Regions from separate parts of the Homo sapiens genome. Here region 2 is linked to region 1. The links come from fine-mapping of genetic effects on gene expression. Tissue or cell type: memory regulatory T cells. Region 1 holds a variant in brackets; the other region holds the start of a gene. All regions are shown on one strand. Distances are between the middles of the regions.

Region 1 (8,099 bases):
AGAGACAGAGCAGAGACAGGGCAGAGACAGGGCAGAGACAGGGCAGAGACAGAGCAGAGACAGGGCAGAGACAAGGCAGAGACAGGGCAGAGACACGGCTAGAGGTCAGAAGGAGCCTCATGGAGGGGTGACAGGGCAGAAGAGCTTAAATGGGGATTTTAATGGGGCTAAGAATTGGAAGGATCCAAGTCGATGGCAAAGCAGGTCACTGAAATCAGTATATTAGGCAGCTGCACGGGATTCGGGCAGGAACACTGGGACACCCGAACGCCTCACCAGGATAGTTCTTGATAAAGCTCTTATACAGCTCTCCGAGCTTCTCCCCAGTGATGTGCCGTGCGGGATCATCAGGCGACTTGAAGTCAAGATCGTACTTCCCATTGCGATAGAACTCAGATGCTGCCACATCCATGCCGATCACCACCTTGTCTGGGTAACCAGCCGCCTGGATGGCCGTCTTCAGCAGCTCCAGGGCTGGGGGAGGACCAAGAAAGGACCTGAGACTCCAGTGCCCCTTGTCTGCAGCCTCCCCTGCCCATGTGGAGATCCAGGGGGTCTGCCCCCCAGGGTGCTCAGCACTGACCCTCATTGTTCTCCAGGATGTTGGGTGCGAAGCCACCTTCATCACCCACATTGGTGGCATCCTTCCCATACTTGGCCTTGATGACCCCCTTGAGGTGGTGGTAGACCTCGGCGCCAATGCGCATGGCTTCCTTGAAGGAGCTGGCTCCCACAGGCAGAATCATGAACTCCTGCATGGCCAGCTTGTTTCCAGCATGGGAGCCCCCGTTGATCACATTGAAGGCCTGAGATGGGGAGAGGGTGTCTGGACCTGGGCCGGGGCATGAGAGCTCAAGAAGGGACAGGGGCGGGGGGTGTTGGGGTGGAAACCTGGCTTCCCTACTTACTAGCTCAGTGGTCTAGGATGAGTAGTTTTGCTCAAGAGCCTCTTTCCTCATTTCTTTCTTTTTTTTTTTTTTTTTTTGAGACGGAGTCTCACTTTGTCACCAGGCTGGAGTGCAATGGCGCAACCTCCGCCTCCCGGGTTCAAGTGATTCTCCTGCCTTAGCCTCCCTAGTAGCTGGGACTATAGGTGGGTGCCACCATGCCTGGCTAATTTTTGTATTTTTAGTAGAGACGGGGTTTCACCATGTTGGTCAGGCTGGTCTCGAACTCCTGACCTTGTGATCTGCCCGCCTCGGCCTCCCGAAGTGCTGGGATTACAGGCGTGAGCCACTGTGCCCAGCCTCTCTTTCCTCATTTCTGTAAAATGGGGATAGCACCTACTTCCCTGTAGGATCTTTTGCTGAAAATTAGAGAAATTGAATGTAAAGTTCTTAGCATGTGCCTAGTATATAATAGCTAACACTTTTATATAGCACTTACTACATGCCACGCACTAAGTACTTTACATGTATTAGCCCATTTCATTCTCAAAACACCTCTATTCATTGGTATCGTTATTACCCCCCATTTTACAGATGGGGAAACTGAGACAGAGCAGTTAAAGAACTTGCCTAAAATCATACAACTAATAACAGGCAGAGCCAGGATTCAAACCCAGCAATCTATCTCTAGAGACCATGCTCTTATGCAATCCTCCTAGTAAGTAACAAGAAATGGTAACATTATTATTGAGATTAAATTCAAAGAGTTTCCATTCATCAAGAAGGCACTGGTTTAAGAAGGACTCAAGAAGATACAAAGAAATGCCAAGATCTTTGCCTCAAAGAAACTCTCAATATGATTTGGGTGTAGGGTGTGGGGTTGGAACGAGGCTGGAGTTATCGAGCCTAGGATTGGAATGGGAAGGAACTGGGTTATATGGCAGGGAAGGAAGCACATAGAGCCTTCAGGGAAGGTTTGGATTGTGGAAGAGAGGGAGGGGTGGGACCACAGCAGGAGAGATTCAATTTCAGGAAACTGCTTCTTAGGAGCTGGTCTGAAAGGTGGATTTTCCAGGGGGGCCAACCCTGGCTGGGCGGGGTTGGCTCTGTCCAGGCGAGATCTGGGAAGGGCGGGTAGCTGCACTCACTGGCACTGGGAGTATGAGGTCAGGGTTCCCAGCGAGATCTGCGATGTGGCGGTACAGGGGGACCCCCTTCTCAGCTGCTCCCGCCTTACACACGGCCAAGGACACGCCCAGGATGGCATTGGCCCCAAACTTGGCTGGAAGGAGGCAAGCGGGAAGAAAGGATGAGAGCTTCTGCAGGGTTTGGGGTGGCTACTCCAGGAAGACGCCAGAGCTCCAAACCACTGAGCATGAAGAATTGGTTAACAGATCTCTCCCCAACAGCCTGAGTAGCCCTGGGAACCCCCACCCCGGGGGAATGTGTCAGCTGCATGTCTGTGTCCACAGCCCGGCCCAGGCCTGGCAGAAGGCAGGCATAGGAAATGCCTGTGGAATGAACACAAATCCATCCAGCTGCGGTGTGACCCAAAATGGGGGACCCAGAAATAACCCATCAGGCCTCACCCCATGGCCTCTCGCCATCTCTCCCACACCTCATCCCTTCCCCACCGCTAGCCCTTCACTCACACTTATTCTCGGTCCCATCTAGCTCAATCATAAATTTGTCAACTTTTTCTTGATCCACAACGCTTAGTTTCTGGAAGGGTGAGTTTGAGAAGGGAGAGCAGAGGTCAGATTTCTCAGAAGTCAGGGCACATGCAGGGGAAGGATAAGGGAAAATGTTTCGGGAGAGGCCTGTCTGGGCTGAGGGAGCAGGGGCATGGGGAGGAGGCTGCAGCGAGCGGGCTTCCCCACTTGCCTTTTGCAGCAGAGCAGGGCCCAGAGTATTGTTGATGTTCTCCACAGCCTTCAGGACTCCTAGACAGGCCAGAGGATGAGTTTTGGAGCTCAATCAACTGGGCCCCTTTCTGTGGACCCCAGCTCCTCAAGAGCCTTGGGGGTTCCAGTCCTCTACCCATTGTGCACCCATGTCCTAAAGCCGCCCACACAGGCTCCTTCTGCGCTGGTGTCTCCTCACCTTTCCCCAGGTAGCGGCCTTTGTCTCCGTCTCTTAGTTCCAGAGCCTCATAGATACCCGTGGAAGCCCCACTGGGCACAGCTGCTCGGAATCGGCCTGG[GA/A]CAGGAGGAATTGGAAGATCACAGGGATGGCTGGGCGCGGTGGCCCATGCCTGTAATCCCAGCACTTTGAGAGGCCTAGGCAGGTGGATCACTTGAGATCAGGAGTTCAAGACCAGCCTGGCTAACATGGCGAAACCGTCTCTGCTAAAAATACAAAAATTAGCTGAGGCCGGGCGCGGTGGCTCACGCCTGTAATCCCAGCACTTTGGGAGGCCAAGGCGGGCGGATCACGAGATCAGGAGATCGAGACAATCCTGGCTGACACCGTGAAACCCCATCTCTACTAAAAATACAAAAAATTAGCTGTAGTCCCAGCTACTCGGGAGGCTGAGGCAGGAGAATGGCGTGAACCCGGGAGGCGGAGCTTGCAGTGAGCCTAGATCGCGCCACTGCACTCCAGCCTGGGCGACAGAGTGAGACTCCATCTCAAAAAAAAAAAAAAAAAATTAGCTGGGCGTGATGGCACAGGCCTGTAATCCCAGCTACTTGGGAGGCTGAGGCACAAGAATCACTTAAACCCGGGAGGCAGAGGTTGCAGTGAGCTGAGATTGCACCACTGCACTCCAGCCCGGGCCACAGAGCGAGACTCCATCTCAAAACAAAACAAAACAAAAAAAAGGACCTCACAGGGAGTCTCTCTACCTCTCAAAGGGCTGAGGTGTCCTCTCTGAGCTCAGGGACAGGAGGCAGTGCAGAGAGAGACTCCTGCTTCTCCTAGCTTCCAGCTCTGGTTCCACGTTGGAAGAAGGGGGCTTGGGAAGAAGTCTGGGAAAGGGAACCCGAGAGAAAGGAGAGGATATGGCACAGAACTGGGGGGCAAAGGCCAAAGGGTTGGGGTCTTCGGAGGCGAGCCTATCCAATGGGCCTTGTGTTACCCTTGGCCGTGTGCAGGTCCACCTCCACCGTGGGGTTGCCCCTGGAGTCCAAGATTTCCCGGGCAAAGATTTTCTGCATGGCCATGGCTGCAGGACAGGAGGTGTGAGTGAGTGTAGACAGTTGATCTCTTAAGGAACCAGAAATCCCTTGCCCTTTAAGATTCTTCCCCACTCCAAGAAGGCAGGTGCTGGAGCTAAAAATACCCTACAAAAAGGTCACAGACCAAAGAGGCAGGCGCAGCCCCCTCCCCCACTCAGAACAGCTCTTATTCCACCCTCCCATCCTAAGAATCCAGGGGCCTCTTATCTATAGCTCCTGGGATGCCACCGCTCACCAAGCCCCCACCTCCCCCAAGCCTCCACTTAGGCCTTCTCCTTCCACCCCTCTGGTCAAGCAGTCTGTTCTCCATGGCTGGTGGCCTTCAAATCCTTTCTGGTTCTCATTTTCCTGCTCCGAAATCTCCTTGGGCCCCCAATTCCCTATCAGGTTCCAGCTCTAGCTGCCCTTTTCTATCCATCCCTGCTGCCCTCCTCACAGCCTCCTTTCCCTAGATCCTTCGGTGTTCCCAGAGTTTGTCCCATCTGCTTGCTCCAGCCGCCCCTTCCCCCAGCTTTTTCAAGCATCTCCAGTCCCAGGAGGAAAAAAAGCAGAAATGTCCCCCACTTCCTCCAAGCCAATACCATGCTCACCCTTTACTACCTCCACCCCCAGGGCTGGAAGATTCACCCGACCTGGGATGTCTTCGCTGGAGGTTTGGATGGAGCTCCGAGTCTAGGTGGCAGCTGGGACAGTGTCAGCTCACCCCCTCTCAGGCTGCGCATTTATCCCTGAGCCACTCGGTCCCCAGCCAGCCCCGCCTCTCTTTCTCTCCATCCTCCCCCCTTCACACTGGGCTGGCAGCCAAGTGCCCACTACAGCCTGAAGCAGAAGCCTCTGGCCCTGGGCACCTGCCCCCTTACCAAAGGTCAACTACTATCCCCCACTTTCTGTCTCCCAATAACAGTCCCTGTTCTAATTCCACCCTTTGGGAGGAGCAAGGGAGGGGCTACAGATGAGGGGTCTCCCCCCACCCCAGGATTACATTCCCCTTTTGCAAACGTCAAGAGGAATGAGTGACCTTTAGGAAAGGCCAGGGGTAACCTGAGCCCTGCAAGGCTGGGGAGGGGGCCTGGAAGAGGGGCTGCAAGATTGACGTCCACACATGCTCAGATCGCTGGGCGGGCCTCTGTCCTCAGTGGGGGAAAGGACGGGACCCCCCACCCCAGAAGGCGAGAGGGTCTCACCTCTTAGGGTCCTCATAACGGCCATTCTCGGCGCCGCCCCATCCTACCCTCTCCAGGCCAGCCAGCGCCGGGATGAGTTAGGGGACAGGAAACGAATTTAGACAGGCCCTTTCGGCTGGCAAGGCGCCCGACTGATAACGCTGGGACAGCACTTGTCGCCCGGCGTGGGGACTGTCGGTCAGAGCCCCTTTCCCCATCGACTGTGGGCGCTCAGCGCACGGCCCCAGCCCATCAATGAATGGGGCTGAATCAACAGTGAACAAAAATGAATGGACCGAGGACGGGTGGCCTTTTGTGAGCTTCTGCACGCCTGGGGCTCTTCCGGCGCCCCACTTGTAGCACTGCGGGGAGGTAGGTCTCTGCCCTCGGTAGAGATCTCCACTTTGCCGGCTCTGGGGCCAGTGCGGGGTCTGCCCCGAGCTCCTCTGCAGCCATACCAGCCGACCGGCGGGGGACACACGGCGCCTCGGCCCGACTCGGAGGCCCTTCCCGTCGGCGCCGGGGCAGCGCGCGCCCGGTGACTCACCCCCGCCGCCCTCTCCCCACCCCTGCTCCCCGCCCCGCCGGCCCGCGCGGCCTCCCAGCCCCCACCCCAGGCCACCTGCCCCGCCACCCGTCCAGTCTCCCCTCTCGCCCCGCCCCCTCATCTCAGGCCGCTCCTCCCGGGATTTTTCCACCCTGGGGTAGGGGTGCGGTGGGCCAGGGGTCAGGAGATGGCGGGCGGGGAGCGCCGCCACGTGCCCGGGTGCGGCCCCGCCCGAGCCCGCCAGTGACTCAGCCGCGCGGCTGTCGAGGAACACGGACTCGAGGGGCGTCGGGGACTGTGGGATTCGGCGTGGACGCCAGGGATGCGCGCCGCGCTCGGGAGGAGAGAGAAAACCAACCCCCTTTCCGCCCGGGCCGCGCTCGGTGACCCCTTGCCCCTAGCCCAGGCTCCGGAAGCCGCCCAGCCCTCGGCGGCGGGTCGGAGGAGGCGGTTTCACCGCGGCCGCCGCACGGCCGTCCCGCCCGTCCCGCCCTCCCCAGGTGGCTGTGAGCGCACATCTGACTGCGAAGAAACCCAAAGGGCCCGAAGTGGGACTTTCCCCTTCTTGAAAAAGTTGCCACTCTTGCAACTTGAGTATTCTTCCGCCTCGAAAAATAGCCCCGCCTGTTAAGCCCCGCGGGTGTCCGCGCTCTGTGACCTCTGCAGACACAGGCCAAGGGGCACGGCCGGTGATCCAGACATTGCCTGCCTGGGGCGGGCGGGGCTGGGATGTGGGGTGAGGCCCTGGGCTAGAGCCGATCCAGAGAAGGGACAATCCTCTAGACTGAGAATGGGCCCTGGTGAACCCAACCTGCACGACCCGAGAAGACGCTGGGGACAGAAGTGGCCCCGGTGGGTGCCTTCAGCTATGAGAGCGACTAGAGGATTTGGCCAAACTCTTCTTTGCTTTCTTATTACTTGAATAAGTAAAATCAAGGGTGGTGAGGCGGCAGCGCGCACGGCTTCGCCCCCGCCCCTTCCGCCAGGCGGGAGACACGTCCCCAGCCCGCCTTCCTTTCCCGCAGGGTCCACACGGGTCGGGCCGGGCGCGCTCCCGTGCAGCCGGCTCCGGCCCCGACCGCCCCATGCACTCCCGGCCCCGGCGCAGGCGCAGGCGCGGGCACACGCGCCGCCGCCCGCCGGTCCTTCCCTTCGGCGGAGGTGGGGGAAGGAGGAGTCATCCCGTTTAACCCTGGGCTCCCCGAACTCTCCTTAATTTGCTAAATTTGCAGCTTGCTAATTCCTCCTGCTTTCTCCTTCCTTCCTTCTTCTGGCTCACTCCCTGCCCCGATACCAAAGTCTGGTTTATATTCAGTGCAAATTGGAGCAAACCCTACCCTTCACCTCTCTCCCGCCACCCCCCATCCTTCTGCATTGCTTTCCATCGAACTCTGCAAATTTTGCAATAGGGGGAGGGATTTTTAAAATTGCATTTGCAAAGTTCGGTGTCTGGGCTGGCGAGTGGGGGAGGGAGGGAATGGGGAGTAGGCCCCGCCCCTACCGTCCTTTGCAAATAAAAATCTAGCGGGGCGGGGGGGGGGAGGAGCAGGAAGTGGCGGTGCGAGGGCTGCTGCACAGCGAGCGGAGCCGCGGTCCGGACGGCAGCGCGTGCCCCGAGCTCTCCGCCTCCCCCCGCCCGCCAGCCGAGGCAGCTCGAGCCCAGTCCGCGGCCCCAGCAGCAGCGCCGAGAGCAGCCCCAGTAGCAGCGCCATGGCCGGGTGGAACGCCTACATCGACAACCTCATGGCGGACGGGACCTGTCAGGACGCGGCCATCGTGGGCTACAAGGACTCGCCCTCCGTCTGGGCCGCCGTCCCCGGGAAAACGTTCGTCAACATCACGGTACTGCGAGGCCTGCGCGGTCCGGGGCACTGCTCCGGTTTGGACCCTGAGGGAGGGACTTGGGTGGGGGCGGGCGCGGTCTAGGGCGCGCAGCGAGAGGCCCTGACTGGGTGCTTGCCCTGGAAGCGGCGCGAATGGCGGCTGCACGTGAGTGGGTCCCTCAGTTGCCCGTAGGTCCTATGCCCCAGGCGGCGGCGCCCATCCCGCCCGCTACCCCGCTTTCCGCGACGGGGCGTTACATCCGGGGCACAGGGCGGGGAGGGGCGCGGCGCCCGGTGCGGCGGCCCACTTCCGCCTCTCCCAGGGCGGGGCGGGGACGCGCCTCAGTTTTTACTGGGGATTGGGATTGAGAGGGGACCCGGGGATCCTTGGACCCCCAGCTCCCCGTCCGGCTGCCAGCCCGCGTCCCTCTACCATTGTTTCTCCTGGTGCGGAAGGGAGCCCCAGGCGCGTGGTCTTGGTCCCTTGCCCACCCTCTGTG
Region 2 (8,099 bases), 150 kb after region 1:
CCACCCGCCTCGGCCTCCCAAAGTGCTGGGATTGTAGGTGTGAGCCACCGCGCCCGGCCATATCCACCTTACTCATAGTTGGATCCTAGTATTGCATCAGCAACCAGTATTGTACCAGGCACTCGGGTTTGTTGAATGAACAAATGAACAAATGGAATTTCGTTTATGTCAGCAGTTCCCTTCCCAGGCTTCTACTAATCCCCTTTCTCTGGGCCCAGTCTAAGAGCAGTCCCAAGCATCTGGCTAGACCAGTTCCTGGTTCAAAACTATGTCCCGATCCAGGGAGGTGGAAAAGCCTTCCTCTCTCCTGTGGTCTCTCTTTCTCAACTCCCAGCAAGGCCGTGGGTGGGCTCACCACTCAGCTGGTGTCTCTCACCCCAGGGAGGCCTCACCTGTGGGAGGTATCGATCCGCACGCCGTGCCGTGCCTCCGTGCTCCTTTTCCCCACTTGCACCTCAAAGCCAGGGTCAAAGAGCTGAACAAATGAGATGGCACCTGTCTCGAGGCACATGTACAGCAGGAAGGAGTCCTTCACCACCAGCCACCTAGAGCAGAAGGGCTCCGTGTGTTCCTCTCTGCCCTCAAAATTTTCTTCCTCACCCCCACCCACTGCCCAGCTGCTTGGCCATAGCCCGTACCTCTTGGACCAGCGATAACAAACTTGGTCTCGGCCACAGCAGGTGAGGCCAGGAACACGGTGGCCACCTGAGCGCTTCCGGATCATCCCCTCCCTGTGGGACAATCAGGAAGAGAGGCGGGATGAGGACTCCAGACCCCCAGCCCACCCTGCACTGCTTGCCCCAATCTCAGGCAGGGAGAAATTAAGAGTGATGTCTACGGATGCCTGGGTGAAGGGGGCCAGACACTCACAGTCCTTTGCGGCCCAAGTCCGGGATAAAGGACAGCTGACTGACTTCCAGGAACTCTGTCTGCAGAGGAAAACAAAAGCCCGGAGGAGACACCTGGCTTTCAGCCCCTCAGACCCTGGGGCCCCTGGCCCTCCTCCCCGAGGGTCTGATAATCCTGCTCCACATCTAAAATCGGCCCCTGGACCTTACCATGGCATGGTAGTTGCGATAGAAAGACATGGTCAAGAGACGGTTGAGGTAATTCTCCAGGTATTTCTGAAGTGGAGATGAGAGAGAGAGAGAGACAGATGGGACCGAGCCATTTGCACCTCCAATGCCTTCCCGGAGGACCTGGCATCTGGTCCCACCTGTTTGCTGGCTGCATGTCTGGTGGAGCCCTCAGGACCTGCCCGGGGTAGAGAGGGCATCTCTCTGTTGCCTGCATCTCGGGCTGGAGAATAGGCAACGGCAAATCTGTGGAAAGGATGGATGAAGGTCAGGTAAGAGCTGGGAGGCTGGGTGCTCTGGTTCCTGAAAACACTGGAGATGGGGCTCGGAGGAAAAGAAGAGGCCTGGAGGTGGCCAGGCGTGGTGGCTCACGCCTGGAATCCCAGCACTTGGGGAGGCCGCAGCAGGTGGATCACTTGAGCTCAGGAATTTAAGACCAGCCTGGGCAACACAGCAGCACCCCATCTCTACAAAATATACAAAAATTAGTTGGGTGTGGTGGCTGTGGTCCTAGCTACTCTGGAGGCTGAGACGGGAGGACTGCTTGAGCCCAGGAGGTTGCCATGAGCCAAGATCATACCACTGCACTCTAGCCTGGGTGACAGAGGGAGACCTTGTACAAAACAAAAACAAAAAACAAACAAAAGGCCTAGAGGCTGGCAAAACGGAGGCCCCCTACCCTGGGAATGGAGACTAGAAAAGGGTGAGGCTGCCAAGAGCATTTTGGGCATCCCGCCCAGCTGAGATGCTGGCACAGAACCATGGACAGGGAAAGCTGAGCAGGGAAAGTTTCCTGGTAACTGGGGTCAGGGGAGGCAGCACAGTGGCCAGAGTTGCAGGGAGGAAAGGTTGTGGCCCCGGGGTGAGACAGACAGAAAGGAGGGTGGGGAGCACCTGCCCTCTACAGGAAGCAGTCCGGTCGCCCTCACCGAGCCAGAGGGAGCAGACTCATCAAGACTTTGTGTCTCAGGAGGTCCCGATGCAGCTCCTGAAAATGACGGTATTTCTTCTTGGTTGTCCAGGAAAAGTCGCCGTGAGTCAAGCGGACAGAATACAGAGTGCAGGTTCCCACCTAGGGGTATGAGGAACTGAATGGATGTCCCCTGCGTGGGTCCCCGCCTCCCCACTCTGGCCAGCCCTCCTTTTGCCCCTTCCCTGGGGCCAGCCCAGCCACCTTGGATCCATTCCGGGCCGCCCTCCCTTTCCCCCTCCCTGGGGCCAGTCTGGCCACCTTGGATCCGCTGGTATATCTTTCGGTGCCCACCACCTGGGCTGTGACAGGGACCCCAGGTGCGAACACCAAGGGGTGCACTTTCAGAGACTGAAGCTCATAGATGGCCAGAAACGGGTGCATCCGGTCGGCTGGGAGGAAAGAAAGTCGAGGAGTGTAGACCACAACAGGCCCCAGCCCCCTGGCTCCCGAACGCCTCTCCTCCCTGAGGGCCATCCATCTTCCCTGTGTACCTGGGTCCTCTCCCTCCTTCAGGGTGTCCACCTCATCGGACTCCATCTGGAGCTGGCTGGAGTCCAGTTCGTCCCCAGTGGGGAAGAGGCTCTCAGGGGTCGCCGTCATCCTAGGAACATTGGGAAGCCTCAGGGAGGCGAGCTGTCCTGCAGAACCCGCCCCCCATCCTAACTCCCGCAGGTCCTCCATCTCTTCCAGATCCTCCTCTTCCCCCACGGCCTCCTGACCGCCCGCGGATGACGCCTGACCAGTTTGCAACGCCCCACCGACCCCTTCGAGCCCCCATCCCCTACCTTAGTCCTTCATCCACAATCCCAGTCCCGCCCCCCGCCCCCCGCCCCGTCCCGTAACCAGAGCCCCGGGGAACACCCAGCCAGGCCCGGAAGGCTCCGACCTGGGGCGGCGCAGCAGCTGCGCGGGGAAGCGGCCCTGGGTGGTCCGGAGAGCGCGCGGCTACGGGGCTCACGCCAGGCCAGGCGGGCCGGGGGCAGGGGTCCAGGCGGGAATGAGGAAGTTACGCGATCCCAGCCGGGGGTAGAAATCCCGAAATCTGAGCGTGCGACTGAGTCTGGAGGCCCCGCAGCCCGAGCCCGTTCCGTCCCCGCCCGATTTCCGAGACCCGGGACCCCCGCGCGCCCCTTCCCGGCCCCCTCACCCTGGCAGACGGAGCCAGCGCCCGCGGGGGTTCCGGAGCCAAGAGAGCAGACCGGAGCTGCAGCCGGAGCCCACGCCCCGGCCGAGGCGGGGCCGGCCGAGGCGGGGCCGGGGCTCAGGGCCTGCCCTCGGGGGCGGGGCGGCCCCCGGCCTCACCTCCGCGGGATTCTCGTCTGTCCTGTCCCGCCCCCGCTGCCCTCGGCCCGCCCCGCCGCCCAGTGCGCCACCGAGAGCCCCGGGCAGGGGGCCGCCCTGTGCCCTGCAGGGCCGCGGGGCCGCGTAGCTCTCTCGGTGCGGCGGGTAAGTGCTGCCCGGCGTCGGGGCGTCCCGCGCCGTCGGTCCCAGCGTGCCCGGCCGCTGCCTCCCGGGGCACCCCGCGCTGCGCGCATCCCTCGGGCTCGGCGCCCGCCCCGGGCCCCTCCAGCCGCGGGCGCTGCCTCGGCGCCCGGGGGACGCGCCTCCGCTGCGGGAGCTGCCGGTAGGTGCCCCGCTCCCGGACCCGCTGCGAGCCACATTTGGCCTAGCCCAGATAGCGTTTGTACCTGGAAGGAATGAGGGCGTAAAAGGCCTGAGGGGTGGTGGCTACAAACCCATTAGTGTATGAAAGCGGGCATTCTTTCATTCATTCACCAAACATTTATTGCGCGCTTACTCCGTGCCAGAAATTGAGAGTATGGTAGTAAATAAGATGGTTAGAGAGCCTGCTCAGCTGGAATTGGCAGTCTAGGGGGAAATAAAATTTTTTCGGGTATTAAAATACAAGATATTTCAATCTTTTTTAAAAAGCAGATTTATTTTTCTCTTTTGATATACATGTGGGTTTCTAGTTTTGCCCATTGTTTTAGCTCCTGTAAACATTCCTGTAAGTTTGCGTGGATAGTTTTCCTTTATCTTGGGTAACTAGGGAGTGGAGTTGTTCGATCATATCAGTGTGTGTTTAACTTATAAGAAACTGCCAAACGATTTTTTTCTAAATGGTTTTTCCATTCTAGATTTCCAAAATCAGTGTATGGTGGTTCCAGTTATTCCATGGCATGGCCAACGTTGGATATTGTCAGTCTTTAGCGTTGGCCATTTAATGGGTGTTGTGGGCACATCATTGCAATTTGATTTGCATTTGTCTGGAGATCAATGATATTGACCATGTTTCATGTGCTGATTGGCCATTTGTATGTCTTCTTTTATAAAGTGCCTATTCAGTCTTTTGCTATTTTTTATTTATTTTTATTTTTATTTTTATGAGACGGAGTCTCGCTCTTTTTTTTTCTTTTTTTGAGATGGAGTCTTGCTGTGTTGCCCAGGCTGGAGTGCAGTGGCGCGATCTCGGCTCACTGCAAGCTCCGCCTCCCAGGTTCACGCCATTCTCCTGCCTCAGCCTCCTGAGTAGCTGGGACTACAGGCGTCCGCCACCACGCCCAGCTAATTTTTTTTGTATTTTTAGTAGAAACGGGGTCTCACCGTGTTATCCAGGATGGTCTCGATCTCTTGACCTTGTGATCCGCCCTCCTCGGCCTTCCAAAGTACTGGGATTACAGGCGTGAGCCACCGCGCCCGGCCAGAGTCTCGCTCTTGTTGCCCATGCTGGACTGCAGTGGCGTGATCTCGGCTCACTGCAACCTCCCCCTTCCAGGTTCAAGGGATTTCCGGCTAATTTTTGTATTTTTAGTAGAGACGGGGTTTCACCATGTTGGCCGGGCTGGTCTCAAACTCCAGACCTCAAGTGATCCGCCCTCCTCAGCCTCCCAAAGTGCTGGGATTACAGGCGTGAGCCACCGTTCCCGGCCTTTTGCTAATTTTTTTTTTTGAGACAGAGTTTCGCTGTTATTGCCCAGGCTGGAGTGCAATGGCGCGATCTCGGCTCACTGCAACCTCCGCCTCCCGGGTTCTCTCCTGCCTCAGCCTCCTGAGTAGCTGGGATTACAGGCACCTGCCACCACGCCTAGCTAATTTTTTGTATTTTTAGTAGAGACGGGGTTCCTCCATGTTGGTCAGGCTGGCGTCGAACTCCTGACCTCAAATGATCCGCCCTCCTTGGCCTAAAGTGCTGGGATTACAGGCGTGAGCCACCGCACCCGGTCTTAAACTTATAAAACAGGCAAAAACAACCTATAGTGATGGAAATCAGATCAGTAGTTGCTTGTGGCAGGGTGTAGGGAAAAGATTGCCTGTAAAGGGACACGTGAGGGAACATTCCAGGATGATAAGAATGCCCTGTATTTTGATAGGAGTGGTGATTGCATAGGAGCATACACTTGGTAATACTCATGGAACTGTACGTTAAGATGTGTGCATTACATTGTATGTGCATTTTTGCTTCAATAAAGTTCATTGAAAGAAAAAGAAGGCGGGGCGCGGTGGCTCACACCTGTAATCCCAGCACTTTGGGAGGCCGAGGCGGGCAGATCACGAGGTCAGGAGATCGAGACCATCTTGGCTAACATGGTGAACCCCGTCTCTACTAAAAATACAAAAAATTAGCTGAGTGTGGTGATGCGTACTACTCGGGAGGCTGAGGCAGGAGAATCATTTGAACCAGGGAGTCAGAAATTGCAGTGAGCCGGGACAGTGCCACTACACTCCGGCCTGGTGACAGAGTGAGACTGTCTCAAAAAAAAAAAAAAAAGAAAGAAACATTTCTGTGTAACTCAGGCAGTACCCTGTAATCAGCAACCTAACACTCCCCACGTTGTGGCACCCTCAGGGAATGATGAAACAGCACTTGTGGCTGGGCGCAGTGGCTCACGCTTGGAATCCCAGCACTTTGCGAGGCTGAGGAGGGCAGATCACGAGGTCACGATATCGAGACCATCCTGGCTAACACAGGGAAACCCTGTCTCTATTAAAAATACAAAAAATTAGCCAGGCGTGGTGGCGGGCACCTGTAGTCCCAGCTACTTGGGAGGCTGAGGCAGGAGAATGGCGTGAACCCGGGAGGCGGAGGTTGCAGTGAGCTGAGATCGTGCCACTGCACTCCAGCCTGGGCAACAGAGCGAGACTCCATCTCAAAAAAAAAAAAAAGAAAAAAGAAAAAAAACACAGCACTTCCACAGCTTTACTTAAGAGCACTTAGAGTCCTTGGCTAGGATGCTCTTGACTAGATGCTCCCAGCCTTGGCTCTGGCCACCCCAAACTGTCTGAGGGCATCGATGCTTGCTTGGGGACATGCTTCAGAAGCTCAGTGTACTGGTCAAAAGAGTAGATTCTGGGCTGGGTGTGGTGGCTGATGCCTGTAATCCCAGCACTTTGGGAGGCTGAGGCAGGCAGATCACTTGAGGTCAGGAGTTGGAGAACAGCCTGGCCAACGTGGTGAAAGCCCATCTCTACTAAAAATACAAAATGTGGCTGGGGATGGTGGCGGGTGCCTGTAATCCCAGCTACTTGGGAGGCTGGGACAGGAGACTCGCTTGAGCCCTGGAGACGGAGGTTGCAGTGAGACGAGATTGCACCACTGTAATCCAGCCTGGACAACAGAGCAAGACTCCATCTCAAAAATTAAAAAAAGGCCGGGTGCTGTGTCTCATGCCTGTAATCCCAGCACTTTGGGAGGCCGAGGTGGCCGGATCACGAGCTCAGGAGATCGAGACCATCCTGGCTAACACGGTGAAACCCCATCTCTACTAAAAATACAAAAAAAATTAGCCGGGTGTGGTGGTGGGCGCCTATAGTCCCAGCTACTCAGGAGGCTGAGGCAGGAGAATGGCGTGAACCCGGGAGGCAGAGTTTGCAGTGAGCCAAGACCGCGCCACTGCATTCCAGCCTGAGTGACAGAGCGAGACTCTGTCTCAAAAAAAAAAAAAAAAAAAAAAAAAATTAAAAAAAACAATAGATTTTTGGGGTCAGACTGACTCAAGGTGAGGGTTGTGAGCTGGGCATGGTTCCTACTCGGCTAATAACTGCCTGCGTGACCTTGGGCAAATTACCTTACCTCTCAGTGCCTGCTTTTTCACATCTGTAAAACCAGGATAGACTCACCTAACCAGTGAGGGACTTACCTCAAAAGATCTTTGAGGCCGGGTGCGGTGGCTCACACCTGTAATCCCAGCACTTTGGGAGGACAAGGCGGGTGGATTGCCTGAGGTCAGGAGTTCGAGACTAGCCTGGCTAACATGGTGAAACCCCGTCTCTACTAAAAATACAAAAAAATTAGCTGGGCATGGTGGTGTACGCCTGTAGTCCCAGCTACTTGGGAGGCTGAGGCAGGAAAATCACTTCAACCCAGGAGGCAGAGTTGCAGTGAGCCGAGATTGCGCCACTGCACTCCACCCTGGGCGAGAGAGTGAGACTCTGTCCCCCAAAAAAAAGATCTTTGACGTGATTAAGTGAAATGAGACAACATGTAAAAGTCTCTAGCATTTACCTGACACAGCATAATTAATCAATTACAATCATCTTCATAACAGGGGACAGGAACTATCAGACCATTTAATGAGAATCTAACATTTCCCTGAATAATAAAGTTTCTTATTCTAAAAAAATAGAGTATTCTTTGAAAGTTTACATCTTGGGCACTTCAATTCTCATTCTAAAATACAAAGGAATCCCCAGCGGTGTCCAGCCTGGCGCCAAGTTGTCGGGCATTGCCATAGTGAAATGTGACTGCATCTGTCTGTCACAGCACCTCTGCGTCTGTCCCTGCCGTGCCACCTCTCCCAACCACCTCCTGCTTCTCCATGGGGATCAGAAAGGACCCCCAAATTAATGGGGCATAAAAATAGGTGTCTGAATGGGAGTGTACCCCCACCCCTTTCTTCCTCCCTCCTCTCCCCTTTCCATCCCTGGCGCCTGTAATCACCAGGCGGTCTGAGGCTAAGTGGTAGTTTTGCCCATGGTGGGGGGGCTTGGAAACCACACCCCTCTCCCGGGGGCCCTCCTGGCCATTCCCAGCTCTGATCGCCTCCACTGTT

The links. PIP is the estimated chance that this variant, and not a neighbour inherited with it, causes the effect.
Region 2: PLD2 starts here. The variant in region 1 is fine-mapped to the expression of PLD2 in memory regulatory T cells (Schmiedel 2018, PIP 0.92).

What each region holds. Positions count from the first base shown.
Region 1 is chr17:4,947,782-4,955,880 of GRCh38, reverse strand. PFN1 (profilin 1) reads left to right here and starts at 7,351. Exons shown (of 3, transcript NM_005022.4): 1 at 7,351-7,618. The coding sequence starts at 7,487. ENO3 (enolase 3) reads right to left here and starts at 4,762. Exons shown (of 12, transcript NM_053013.4): 1 at 4,699-4,762; 2 at 3,967-4,053; 3 at 2,991-3,086; 4 at 2,772-2,830; 5 at 2,540-2,609; 6 at 2,036-2,169; 7 at 584-806; 8 at 277-474. The coding sequence starts at 4,051. RefSeq lists enhancers at 3,496-4,230, 6,392-6,561 and silencers at 5,612-5,841, 5,892-6,301, 6,762-7,011, 7,142-7,481, 7,752-7,821 and 1 more. The variant GA/A (reference allele first, on the strand shown) is at 3,091.
Region 2 is chr17:4,802,323-4,810,421 of GRCh38, reverse strand. PLD2 (phospholipase D2) reads right to left here and starts at 3,270. Exons shown (of 25, transcript NM_002663.5): 1 at 3,197-3,270; 2 at 2,541-2,650; 3 at 2,308-2,438; 4 at 2,006-2,148; 5 at 1,217-1,322; 6 at 1,059-1,124; 7 at 871-929; 8 at 639-731; 9 at 393-545. The coding sequence starts at 2,649. It overlaps C17orf114 (chromosome 17 open reading frame 114), which reads left to right and starts at 8,094. Exons shown (of 2, transcript NM_001395223.2): 1 at 8,094-8,099. RefSeq lists an enhancer at 1,335-2,534 and a silencer at 2,930-3,719.